3 linked regions of the Homo sapiens genome follow. The protein of the gene in region 1 interacts with the protein of each later gene in a pairwise test. Each region holds a gene or a part of one and is shown in the gene's direction. Other genes may lie near its edges.

Region 1 (3,751 bases):
ACACTTCAGCAGGAACTGTGACATTTCCCAATCTCAGTTGCGCACATTTTGTCCTAAAGACTTCTTAGCTCTTTTACTGTCTTCAGTCCCTCTGCTTCACCTCTTGAGTGTGTAGTGGGATTCAGGCAGATAAGAGGGCGAAAGGACAATTCGTCAGAGAGCTCTGGGTCTCCATGAGGGTGGGCAGTCATCAGTCTTTCCCTGGTCCTTATCGTAGTTTGAATTTGGTCCAAGGAATAAGAGAGACACTTGGCACAGCTTCCCTGCCATACCCGCCAGCCAGGCTACTTCCCATAGAGCACGTTAGGCTTGGCCAAGTGAGATCTTCTTGTCAGTGCTTAATCCAGCCTCCCGTTGTTTGTCAGCCCTAGCTGGAGGCCTCACAGGAGTTCCTGTGTCCTTCCAGTTTGATACCAAGTTTAGACCAAGAAAAGTTCCTTTCTGTGGCACACCTGTAGTCTCTTACCTGTCTTTGGTGGTTGTACACGAACAGGCAGATATCCACAACTGCAGAACAAGTGTCATCGTCTCTCTTAAGAAGTTTCAGGGCAGCCTAAAGGCTCACCTTCACCCTACCAGGCCCCCTTTCATAGCCAGGATCTTAGGGATGGAGAAGAAAGATAAGTTCACCTCGTTCACTGAAGTCGCCCCTTGTTTTCAGGTTAGGAAACCCAGGTTCATGTCCAAGTCCCTGGGCAAGTAGCCAGCGTAACTGATTGACCTAAAACAAAGGATGGAGCCCTTGGAGCTCTGCATAGTGAAATGTATGATTTCTTAGTGGAAAACGAGAAAGCCACTGAGGAAGCCCAGAAGGGAACTTAGCATATACAGCCAGCTTTGGGGAAGGGGGAAGCAGTGCCAAGCAAGACAGGTGCTTTTCAGAGACACATGAATCTCTGTCACTCACGGATGTACTCTTTGCCCCAGGTGAAAGTGACGTCCTGCATTTCACCTCCACCACCACGTCGAAGAATCGCATCATCATAACCTGGCACCGGTACCGGCCCCCTGACTACAGGGATCTCATCAGCTTCACCGTTTACTACAAGGAAGCGTGAGTTTCTGCTTTGGGTGATGCCATTCTGTTGACAGGGCTACGAATGGGAGAGGCCAGTCTTTCGATCCTTGAATGGGCTGGCTGAATACAGGGGGTCAGCAGAGTCCCCAGGGAGAGCCACGCCAAACATCCCTACTTCATCCTCATGCACCCTCTCGGGCTGTCCCTGTGATGTCAGTCACAGCCAGTGACAGCCATGATTGGGAAAGTGTTAGCTCGAGGCCTGTCATTCTTTAGTGAGTGATTAGAGGTGTTTGAATAAAATAAACCCAAAATGGGGAAAGCTTGCTTTTTCCAGAATTAGGTCAGTCCAGACTCATGAACGATGATGGGGGACTTCACTGAAATATCGTTTCAGCCTCCTTACCTACTAGGCCTACTCCAGGAACACCCTGCAGGCACGTGGCTCTTTTGTATCATCTTATTCCTGTCTCTCTCTCTGTGTGCCTCTCCCAAGCTGTGGCCCTCTGCTCTAGGTCATGAGCCTTCCAAACAAGCGAAGAAAAGTGGAGAGAGAACAACCTTCATGTCTTGAGCCTTTTGTGACTTCTCCTAGACTCTGTTGGGAGCTTTTCCTGTGTGATCACATGACATTCCCCCATCTAAGCAGCCGAGGCTTATTCCTCCCGACTGCAGCCCTCTTTGATCTCCCTCTTCCTTCCTTTGCCTTCTATATCCAGGTGGCTACCCCGGTCTACTTAGCCATCCCCCTTACCCAGGTCCCATGTTAATCCCATAGTTCTCTCTCCCAGATGTGTGGCTTCCAAAGAGCAGCAACCAGAGGCACCTTATGACAGCATCTTGTACTCTTTCCTCCTGCCAGAGCTGGGGTCCTATGAATGAGAAATTGGGTACTTAGGATTACTAGGCTTTCAGAGTTTGTACACAGGGGAGCCCCTCATGATCTCCCATCCCATGACAGCAGACGGTGTTTTGTTCATGTTTGTTTCAGAAGCCAGCGGCCAGCAGCTGTCCAGCCCTTTTAGCTGATAAATATAAAATACCTACCCAACCATGCATCTGTGCGAAGTACTATATTCTCTGATAGTCACACCAGTGCTTTGGCAATGTCAGCTGGTAATTTCACTGAGGACTTGATGCTGGTTTCTAAGGCAATCTGGAAACTAAATATTTGAATATTATAAGATGCTTAAGCATCAGAATTGTTTATGAGCAATCTGAATTTTAGAAGCTACTTCTGTTTGTCTGTAGGAAAGTCATTTTTCTCCAACAGTTACCTTCTTTCAATATCTGATATTTGCATTAACTGACTATGCTTGTTTTTTTCTTGATGAAAAAATGCTGCAATCAGAAGAGAGAAAAATAGTTTTTGCATATGTTCTTAAGGAATAGTAACTATTGAATCCCAGTAACTGTTGAAGTGGCTCTTCCTGAGGCAGACCATTCAATTCTGTAATGCCCGACTGGGGAAGCCCAGAGTCCAGTCACTTCATTTCTTCTTCTATAAAAGTCTAATTGATTATTTGTTTATTTAGACCTCCCATTATAGAAAGTGTGACATGCTGGGCCTCTGGGGAAGATTTTTGAGGGTTTTGATGTCAGAGCCCCGAACTTTCTCTGAACTTAATTGTCTTTCAGACCCTTTAAGAATGTCACAGAGTATGATGGGCAGGATGCCTGCGGCTCCAACAGCTGGAACATGGTGGACGTGGACCTCCCGCCCAACAAGGACGTGGAGCCCGGCATCTTACTACATGGGCTGAAGCCCTGGACTCAGTACGCCGTTTACGTCAAGGCTGTGACCCTCACCATGGTGGAGAACGACCATATCCGTGGGGCCAAGAGTGAGATCTTGTACATTCGCACCAATGCTTCAGGTATCCATGCCTAGACAAGCCCCCAGCATCCACACTTCTTCGCAAGCTCACTGGCCTTGCTTGTACCAGGTGTCATTGTAGGGTTAGCAGTGAGCTATGCCTGTTGTCTTTCTTGTCAATAGGTAATACTGTGTCATATTCATTTCCCCACTGCTAACACATTAGGCTCTTCTGTGCCATTTTCTGGCCTCGGTACTATCTTCCATCATCTCCTGCTTTGTGCCTGTGAGCCCAGGTCCTCCAGGGTGCTGGGCTGGTTTCATTGGAAGGCCCAGCCTGGAAACAGCCGTCTTCAGCTGCCCTTGTTTCTTGTTTGTTTTGATGTTCAATCCTCCAGGAACTGAAACCATGCTGATCTGTGTTCCACTTAATTCATGTAGCTCACTGGTTTTCCATCTTCATTCTGGAGCTTATAGAGTTCCAAAGAGGTCAACAAAAGTTGAAAGCCTGCAGATGTAGTATGTTGTGGATATTCAGAGTATTCACTGATGATGAGGTTCCTCCTTCCTTTATCTTTAGGTTCTAAACCATCTCATTTCTCAACTCCAGATCTGGAAACAGTAAAAGCAAACGTTAATAGTTTCCAGTATATAAAAACTAGTTTAGAAGTAGGAAAATCCACTTCAGTTTTAAAGACACTGATTGTTTTAGTGTATTGGAGCTTCTATCACAAAAAAACAGTGTAGCCTGGGTGGCTTATAAGCAATAGAAATGTATTTCTCACAGTTCCAGAAGCCACAAAGTGCAAGATCAAGGCGCTGGCAGATTTGGTGTCTGGTGAGGGCCCACTCCCTGGCTCATAGATGGCTGTCTTTTCATTGTGTCCTTGCATGGTGGCAGGGATGCGGGAGCACTC
Region 2 (3,751 bases), on another chromosome or scaffold:
TGAAGGGAATATTTCACTATTCTCAGGGTTATGTTATATTCAATAAACATTTAAGTGCTTACTTTGTTCAAAGCATTAATGGGGTTGGGAGAGGGGATGGGATAAAAGAGATGTAATTCATGGATGGTTTGTTTCAAAGTTGAGGGTGGGAGATTTCTTTCAAGGCAAATGACACTTTGATTGGGTGGAGGGTAAGGAAGGGGAACGGTTACGTTTCTGAAACAATCCCGGGGTCTGTAATACTTCCACAAGATTCTGTTTGAATATCTCCCTCTTCTCCCCTCATCCAACTCTTACTACTGGTTGGTAACTGGTGTTTTGTCATTGATGGGTTCCTTTCTTCTGTGACCTCAGGCAAGGTCAGCCTGTATATCCCATCACGGGTGGATTCAGGCAACCCTACCCATCCTCACTGTCAGTCGACACTTCCATGTCCAGGTAGGTGGAGGTGGAAACTGGGGCGCTCGAGGACAAGTTGCTCTTCTCGTGCTTGCATCCTGTGCGCCTCTGCTTGCCTTTTGGTTGGCTAGGAGGGTGCATACCTCAGCCATGTGTCTGTCTGTGCAGTGTGCCTGGCTCCCACACTAGGTGTCAGAGAGAGTCCCGGGTAGGAGCTCTGCGCTGTGCCCCGGCCGGACCAGCCACACCATCGGGCGATGGACTCAGCCTCCTTGGAAAGCGTTGCCTCCAAACAAATTCATGGCCGCCTGACTGTGGGATGGGAACTGTCCGGAAAGCGGACATTACAAGAAGAGTTTGTTTGATTCAAAATATGCCGGGGGTGGGGTAAGGGAGGAGGATAAAACTGGTTTGGTCTCAGCTCTATAATTTGCTTCCTTTGTGGAAAGTTGTATCAGTTTGATGCGGCAGTGTTTGAAAATGCCCAGATAGTCTAGAGCCTTCCTGGATGGAGGCTGTCAGAAGAGACAGAACAGTGCGGACAGGCTGGCAGGCCATACAGGGTGTGCGTCCTAGTGTGTGAATCAGGCCCTGTGTGGACATGGTCATGCCAGCGGAGCTCGGGAGGCCTGCCGCGCCGCACCGAGAAGCTGCTGTGTGTGATGCTTTTGCTTCTGGAGAGGATGGCACTGTGCCCTGTGCTTGATGTACACACACATTTGGGGTGCATCATCTGTGTGTTCGATGTGGCTTTGTCAAGGGAGCTAGCATTATTGTGCCGGAAGTCAAACTGGTGGGTTATTAACTGGTTGTGAATATGTCTTTTTTATATGGGTATAGTATTCAAAGTTTCTGTGGTGAATTACAGCTTTAAAAAAACTTTTTTTTTCAGTGAGTTGTAAATGTAGCTGATTGTGGGAGGAGGTGGAATTAATATCCTTCCCCTTAAAACATATTTTTATACTTTTTAACATTGTAAGAACTATCTGATGATAGAACTCTCACAGGCAAATAACTATCATCATGTATTTTTGCAAGTAATACATTTAGCAAAGCATCATTATTTGGTCAAATATTTGTATTTTTACCATGCTTCCTTCATATTTTAAAATTTGTTTTTGAAAAATATATATCCTAGCAGAGTTCCTTTCAAGAAAAGGAAATTAATTGTGTAGGCTGTGATGAAAGACCTGAGAATGTTGTTCTTGCTGAATTAAATGTTTACTTTAAAAAGTTTGAAAAGCAAAAATTTCTAAAACATATCCAAATTTATCTAGAGAGCTTATTGAAAATACTGTCTTTATTTTATTTTTCTTGCCTGGCAGTTTCCCTCCTTTGTGTTGGCTGGTGGTGGATATTTTAAGATTTTTTTTAATGCTGTTCAAGCGTACTTGGGAAAAAGCCTTTGGCAAGTGTAGTTTTTAACCTTGATGCAGAACTTTATCCTTCCTTTAAATTCTTCTCCTTATTTCTGTTACCAGTTTTCCATAAGATGAGATCTCTGAAACATTAGTGTATTTCTGCACAGAAAATCATTTTGGATGATGTTAATGGAAACCTTATTAAATGGGAGACTGATTCCTATCCGTTTTCTCAGTTGTTCCCTCCTAATATGGATGAGGAAGCCAATAATATGAGAAAATTCCCATTGTGATGGTTTGCTTAGGAATATAGGCAGAGATTTTAAAACATGATGTGTTTTGCTTTCATTTAAAAATCATTTAAAAAGTCAAGTCTTAAATAAAGTGTTATATTTCCAATAATTACTTTTCGTGAAATTCCTATTTCAAAATTGCTTTGCAAGAAAAATGATTCACTTTTTTTTTTCCACCCGAATATAGAAAGAAAAAAATAATTATCGGCCCACTCTAATTTATAGTTAATGCTTCTGTGCGTAAAGATGTGTTTTTACTCTTAGCCAGTAGCAGTTAGTGGATTGCTTTGAAATTCCATCTAGCTTTTGCTGCAACAGCCAGTAGTACATTGTTTTCTTCTCTTTCCTCCTTTCAGGTTTTCCCATCATATGATTCCCGGTCCTCCTGGTCCCCACACAACTGGCATCCCTCATCCAGCTATTGTAACACCTCAGGTCAAACAGGAACATCCCCACACTGACAGTGACCTAATGCACGTGTAAGTATCCACCCGGGCTCTGCTGTGATTGCCTTAGGATACTGAGGATTTCTACACTGTTGCTCCTTTGCAACAGTGATCCTTCACCCCTTTGTGTTGCTGTGAAACTCAATGCACCTCTGCCTTGAAAACTCTGTCCCTGAGGACATTAAGCAGCTTCATTCCTACTGTGCTGATTTTGATTCTGAGGTTGCAAAGGAGCACGGACCCTAAAAGATCATGGGAACCTCACCAAAATGGAAGAATCTTCAGAACATAGGCATTCGAGACTCTTCAGCTGTTTAGCCATTTACCACTGAATTTTCATTTGGTTCAGATTATTGGGGAGAACCTGTTCCTACCTGAGTGAAGTAGATTGGAGGGTTTAATGCACTTTCTTCTGGAAGTGCAGTTACCCTGGCTCCAAGCTTCAACAGCACAGAATTCAAGGGAAAGGAACAAATAAAGCCCAGGATTCCCTGTTGGGCCAGGGTTGTCTCAGACTGTGAGTGCAGGCCTAAATTAATTTACTCTGAAGAGATGAGTAATTAGTTTCTTAATCTAGGTTTTGTGGATGGGAGGGTGGGGGTGAGAGGCAGCATGTGATGGTCCATAAAGCCCTTGCGAATGTATGCAAAGGCAACATGCATTTGTTTGGGGGAAAAGGTCTAAAGATTTATTAGCTTCTCAAAGTGCTCCTTAACCCCCTGCAAAAGTTAAGAACCTCTATTCTGAAAGAGGAATGATCACCTGTGCTGTGTGTTCAGCTTCTTCTGAGGGGACCAGAGAAGTCCTCAGCCTCAGAGCCCATCTGGAGCATCTTCACAATGCCAAGTCCATTTCTACTTGGTGTTCATAGTTCTATAATGACAGGTCCACTTTCTCAAACCAAAGGGTTTTATTCTCAGTCACTGAGTAGATAGGAAGCCCTATTGGATGGGTTGTTTGCCTCTCAGTGTTTTGTCAAATGAGTCAATAACTGCTCTTCCAAGTTGGTGGTGGTCTGGGGTGAGAGGGTTGTCGCCATCCTGAGTGTAGCCATGTGAGCAGGTGCTCTGCTTTTCTCCTCCCCCATCCCTTCCTCATTCCTTCAACCCCTTCCCCTAACCACCACCACCACCACCTTTTAGGAAGCCTCAGCATGAACAGAGAAAGGAGCAGGAGCCAAAAAGACCTCACATTAAGAAGCCTCTGAATGCTTTTATGTTATACATGAAAGAAATGAGAGCGAATGTCGTTG
Region 3 (3,751 bases), on another chromosome or scaffold:
CTAATGTCCTCTGCCAGATTTGCTCTTGGTTCTCCAGGGTCTTTGGGGGCCTCACTCCAGAGCCTCCTAACCAGTCCTATTTGACCAGATGGTACCAAAGAGTAACAATAACAATAACAATAATAATAGTTGACATTTATGGTATTGATATGTGCTTGGCTATGTGCTAAACATGTTAAGTGATAGTCCCATTTATTTCTCACAACAATGCTATAAAGTAGGAACTATTGTTTTTATTGTCGCATCATTTGCAGATGAAAAAACTGAGCACTGCAGAGATTGTGTAGTTGGGTAAAATATCTAGTAAGTGGTGGAGACAGAATTTGTCTTGACAACAGTGTATGCTGTCTTTTTCCCTCTTAACATACTCTGGTCCCCCCTGGTAATGAACTTGGCACCATTCTCTCAGCTAGCTGGGGTTCTCTTGACATTTTTATTTGACCTTACTCTTTTTTGGTAAACTAACTCCTGCTTAGCAGTAGGTATTTTCACTTAATGTATTATACCTCCTGGGAAAACAAACGTGTACTGGAAAAGAAATATCTGACGCACAATAAAATTTTAAAGAGTTTATTTAGTAAGAAGCCAGTCATACATTGGGAAACACCAGACCAAAAGAGGTTTAGTGTTCCAATGACAAAACGCCAGAGGCAAGTATTTATTGGGAAAGTACAGAAACAAACAATTTATTTGGTTGGTTTGCAATTACATAATTGCCTTTTTTCAGGTACTGTATTGGAAAGTCCTTACTGACATAACAATATGTGAGTTGGATGCTTATGATTGGCTGGGGTTATGTTTTAGTTCTAACATAAGCATTTATCAGATATGAACCTGAGGTAAGTTTCACTTCTGTTTGCAATTTAAGGTGCATGCATATTGGTGCACACCTGTAGTCCCAGCTACTTGGGAGGCTAAGGAGATCAGTTGACCTGGGAGGTTGAGGCTGCAGTGAGCCACGATCCAGCCAGGATGACACAGTGAGACCCTGCCCCAAAAAGAAAAAGAAAAAAAAAGTAAGAAAAAGAGTACCCTTGTTTCTCACCTCCCAGAACCACTTTGTATTGGGAACTTTATATCAGTAATATAGATCCAGATTTTAGCAAATCCATGAAACCTATCTGACCTAAGAGCTTCCTGGAGTCAAGTCAGAGCTCTCCTGAGGATGAATAACTATAGAGCTCTCTTGAGAGTTCCATAGTTAACCAAGCTTTATACATTTATTCCATAAATATATTTTGTATACAGACACTGTACTAGCTTCTTAGGTGTTTCTTTTTTTGCTATGACCAGCCTATCTAAAAAACTGCATTTGCCAGGCATGGTGGCTCATGCCTGTAATCCCAGCACTTTGGGAGGCTGAGGTGGATGGATTGCCTGAGCCTAGGAGTTCAAGACCAGCTTGGGCAACATGGCAAAACCCTCTCTCTCTCTTAAAAAACAAAACAAACAAAACAAACACAAAAAACACACACACACAGAAAAAATTAGCTCAGTATGGTGGCATGCACCTGTCATCCCAGCTACTTGGGAGGCTGAGGTGGGAGAATCACCTGAGCCTGGGAGGCCAAGGCTGCAGTGAGCTGTGATTGCATGACTACACTCCAGCCTGGGCAACAAAGCAAGACCCCATATCAAAAATAAGAAGAAAGAAGACTCTGTTGACCTTTCTAAGAATGGATTACCTGTTATAGAGCAAATGCTATCCTCTGGCCTCAACCTCCTGTGTAGTTGGGACCACAGGCATATACCACCATGTCCAGCTAATTTTTCTTTTAAATTGTAGACAGGGTCTAACTATGTTACCCAGGCTGGTCTCGAGCTCCTGGGCTCAAGTGATCCTCCCACTTTGGGCTCGAGTGATCCATCCAGCACTCCCAAAGTGCTGGGGTTATAGGCATGAGCCACTGCATCCAGCCAATAGACTATTCTATATATCAATATATGCAATAGGACATTTATTTAATATTTTCAGAGATGATTATGATGAGTTCCTGAATTTGAACCAGCCTCCAGTGAATGCATCCTGGAATACCTTTTGCTTTCTTTTAGCCTAGAGTTTATCTGTTTTCACATGACATGAAAATAGCATGACCTGGGTAATTCATTTGACAAGTATTTACCTAGGACTCGTAAGTGCTTTTTATTGTTACAAGTAGAAGAAGACCATGCCATTATGCTTGTAGGTCTTTAAAGGACCTACAACCTAGTTGGAAATAATTATAGAATGGGATTAGATAGTATATATCATGATATCAACTTACTCATATTAAAGACCCTACTTTGTCTCTTTTTCTATTTTTTAATAATGCCTTAGATAAAAAGATGTAAGGGATCCTTGTTAAATACCTGGGAGACACAACGCTGGGAGTGAGAAATGGAAGACTAATATATTGACGATAGATAGTGATCCAGTAAACAAGAGCATTGTGCTGAAACTAACAAGTTGAAATTAACAAGAATAAATAGAAAGCCTTGCATTTAGTTTCAAAAATCCAGTAGCATAATTACAGGATGGGAGAAAGCTATAATGTCCACATTCAAAAAAAGTCTTGTTGACTTTTTATTTAATCTACACCGTCAGTTAGTATCTTAAAATACTACCGAGAACCAGGCACCATGTAGGCACTGGGGGACCTCACCACCTGATGCACCTGCAAACACAGATCTATTGGTCTCTAACGTGCAGCTGGAAGAGAAAATAAGCCTGCTTCATAGATCTCATCAGAAGGAGACACAACTCTCTAAGAAGGTCATATTTGATAAAATAGCCTGTAGAAGAGGGAGACTAGAGTGGTGAGTGACAGAAAAACCAGGCTGTACAGAAATATTGAGTGACCACAGGATGTTTAGTCTAAAGAAGAAAAGATTATAGGACTTTGATGGCTGTTTTCCAGCCTTTGGAGAGCTGTTGTGTGACTACAGGGGAGCCTTAAGACGTCTTTTGGGTTATTTCAGTTGGACCAATGCGGTGAAAGTTAGAAAGGACAGATTCATGTTGATGTCTTAAAAGTTTTCCTGCCAACCTTGGAAAAGGCTGCCTCTAAAATTGCAAGATTTCTAAAAAAGCTATATTGTCAGTGACTAGAATGGATGATCTCTAAGAATTCCTCTGATGCCAGTTTTTTTCATTTTTATTTTCCAAATTAAGTGGGAGGTAAGAGAACTTTTCATATACTTTCCTGAAGCCTTCAGACCTGCAAGAATTTTGCCAGCCCACAATTAATGAGTATGCTTCTCCATCTTCCCCACTTTCACTGGCTAAAACAACCTTGATTTAGTGAACAGAATGTCATAGTAAATATACTCCAACCATTAAATTACACCACTGACCCACTTAGGGTGAAACAGTTATTAAATTCTAAACTGTGTCTCCATTCATTCACCAGTTGGACATGTAAATACCAGTGCTGACCAGAACATACAAGAAGGGGAAAATCTTGCCTCAAAGTGAGGTAAATGGTGAGAGGAAGCTGACAGACCAGAGCCTAAGAGGTGGAGCACATAGAAGCTTCCACATACTGTCTGCAGCTCAAGAGGGAGTAATGGTGCCCTGAGCTGTGCAAATGCCAGAGGAAGGGAGGCACCTCTCAGCTCCCTGGAGCTACCCTAATATTTACTGTGGTGGTGTCTCCCAAGCTTCACAGTTCAAGCCAGCATCTTCGGAACACCTGCTATGATTTTAGATGAGCCCAGATGTCATCACACAGCTAAGAAGATAAACCATTACCACATTCTCAGCTGGCCATTT

The links.
Region 2: the proteins of IGF1R (region 1) and LEF1 interact in binary tests that used the Homo sapiens proteins (3 or more experiments, as listed by UniProt).
Region 3: the proteins of IGF1R (region 1) and PTPRR interact in a two-hybrid assay, tested with the Homo sapiens proteins (one study listed by BioGRID and IntAct).

The regions. Positions count from the first base shown.
Region 1 is NC_000015.10:98,910,388-98,914,138, forward strand, and holds part of IGF1R (insulin-like growth factor 1 receptor isoform 1 precursor), read left to right. Parts: intron 1-927; coding exon 928-1,054; intron 1,055-2,656; coding exon 2,657-2,895; intron 2,896-3,751. UniProt on the Homo sapiens protein: Receptor tyrosine kinase which mediates actions of insulin-like growth factor 1 (IGF1). Binds IGF1 with high affinity and IGF2 and insulin (INS) with a lower affinity. The activated IGF1R is involved in cell growth and survival control.
Region 2 is NC_000004.12:108,078,273-108,082,023, reverse strand, and holds part of LEF1 (lymphoid enhancer-binding factor 1), read left to right. Parts: intron 1-354; coding exon 355-438; intron 439-2,409; coding exon 2,410-2,532; intron 2,533-3,641; coding exon 3,642-3,751. UniProt on the Homo sapiens protein: Transcription factor that binds DNA in a sequence-specific manner. Participates in the Wnt signaling pathway. Activates transcription of target genes in the presence of CTNNB1 and EP300.
Region 3 is NC_000012.12:70,641,037-70,644,787, reverse strand, and holds part of PTPRR (receptor-type tyrosine-protein phosphatase R isoform 1 precursor), read left to right. Parts: intron 1-3,751. UniProt on the Homo sapiens protein: Sequesters mitogen-activated protein kinases (MAPKs) such as MAPK1, MAPK3 and MAPK14 in the cytoplasm in an inactive form.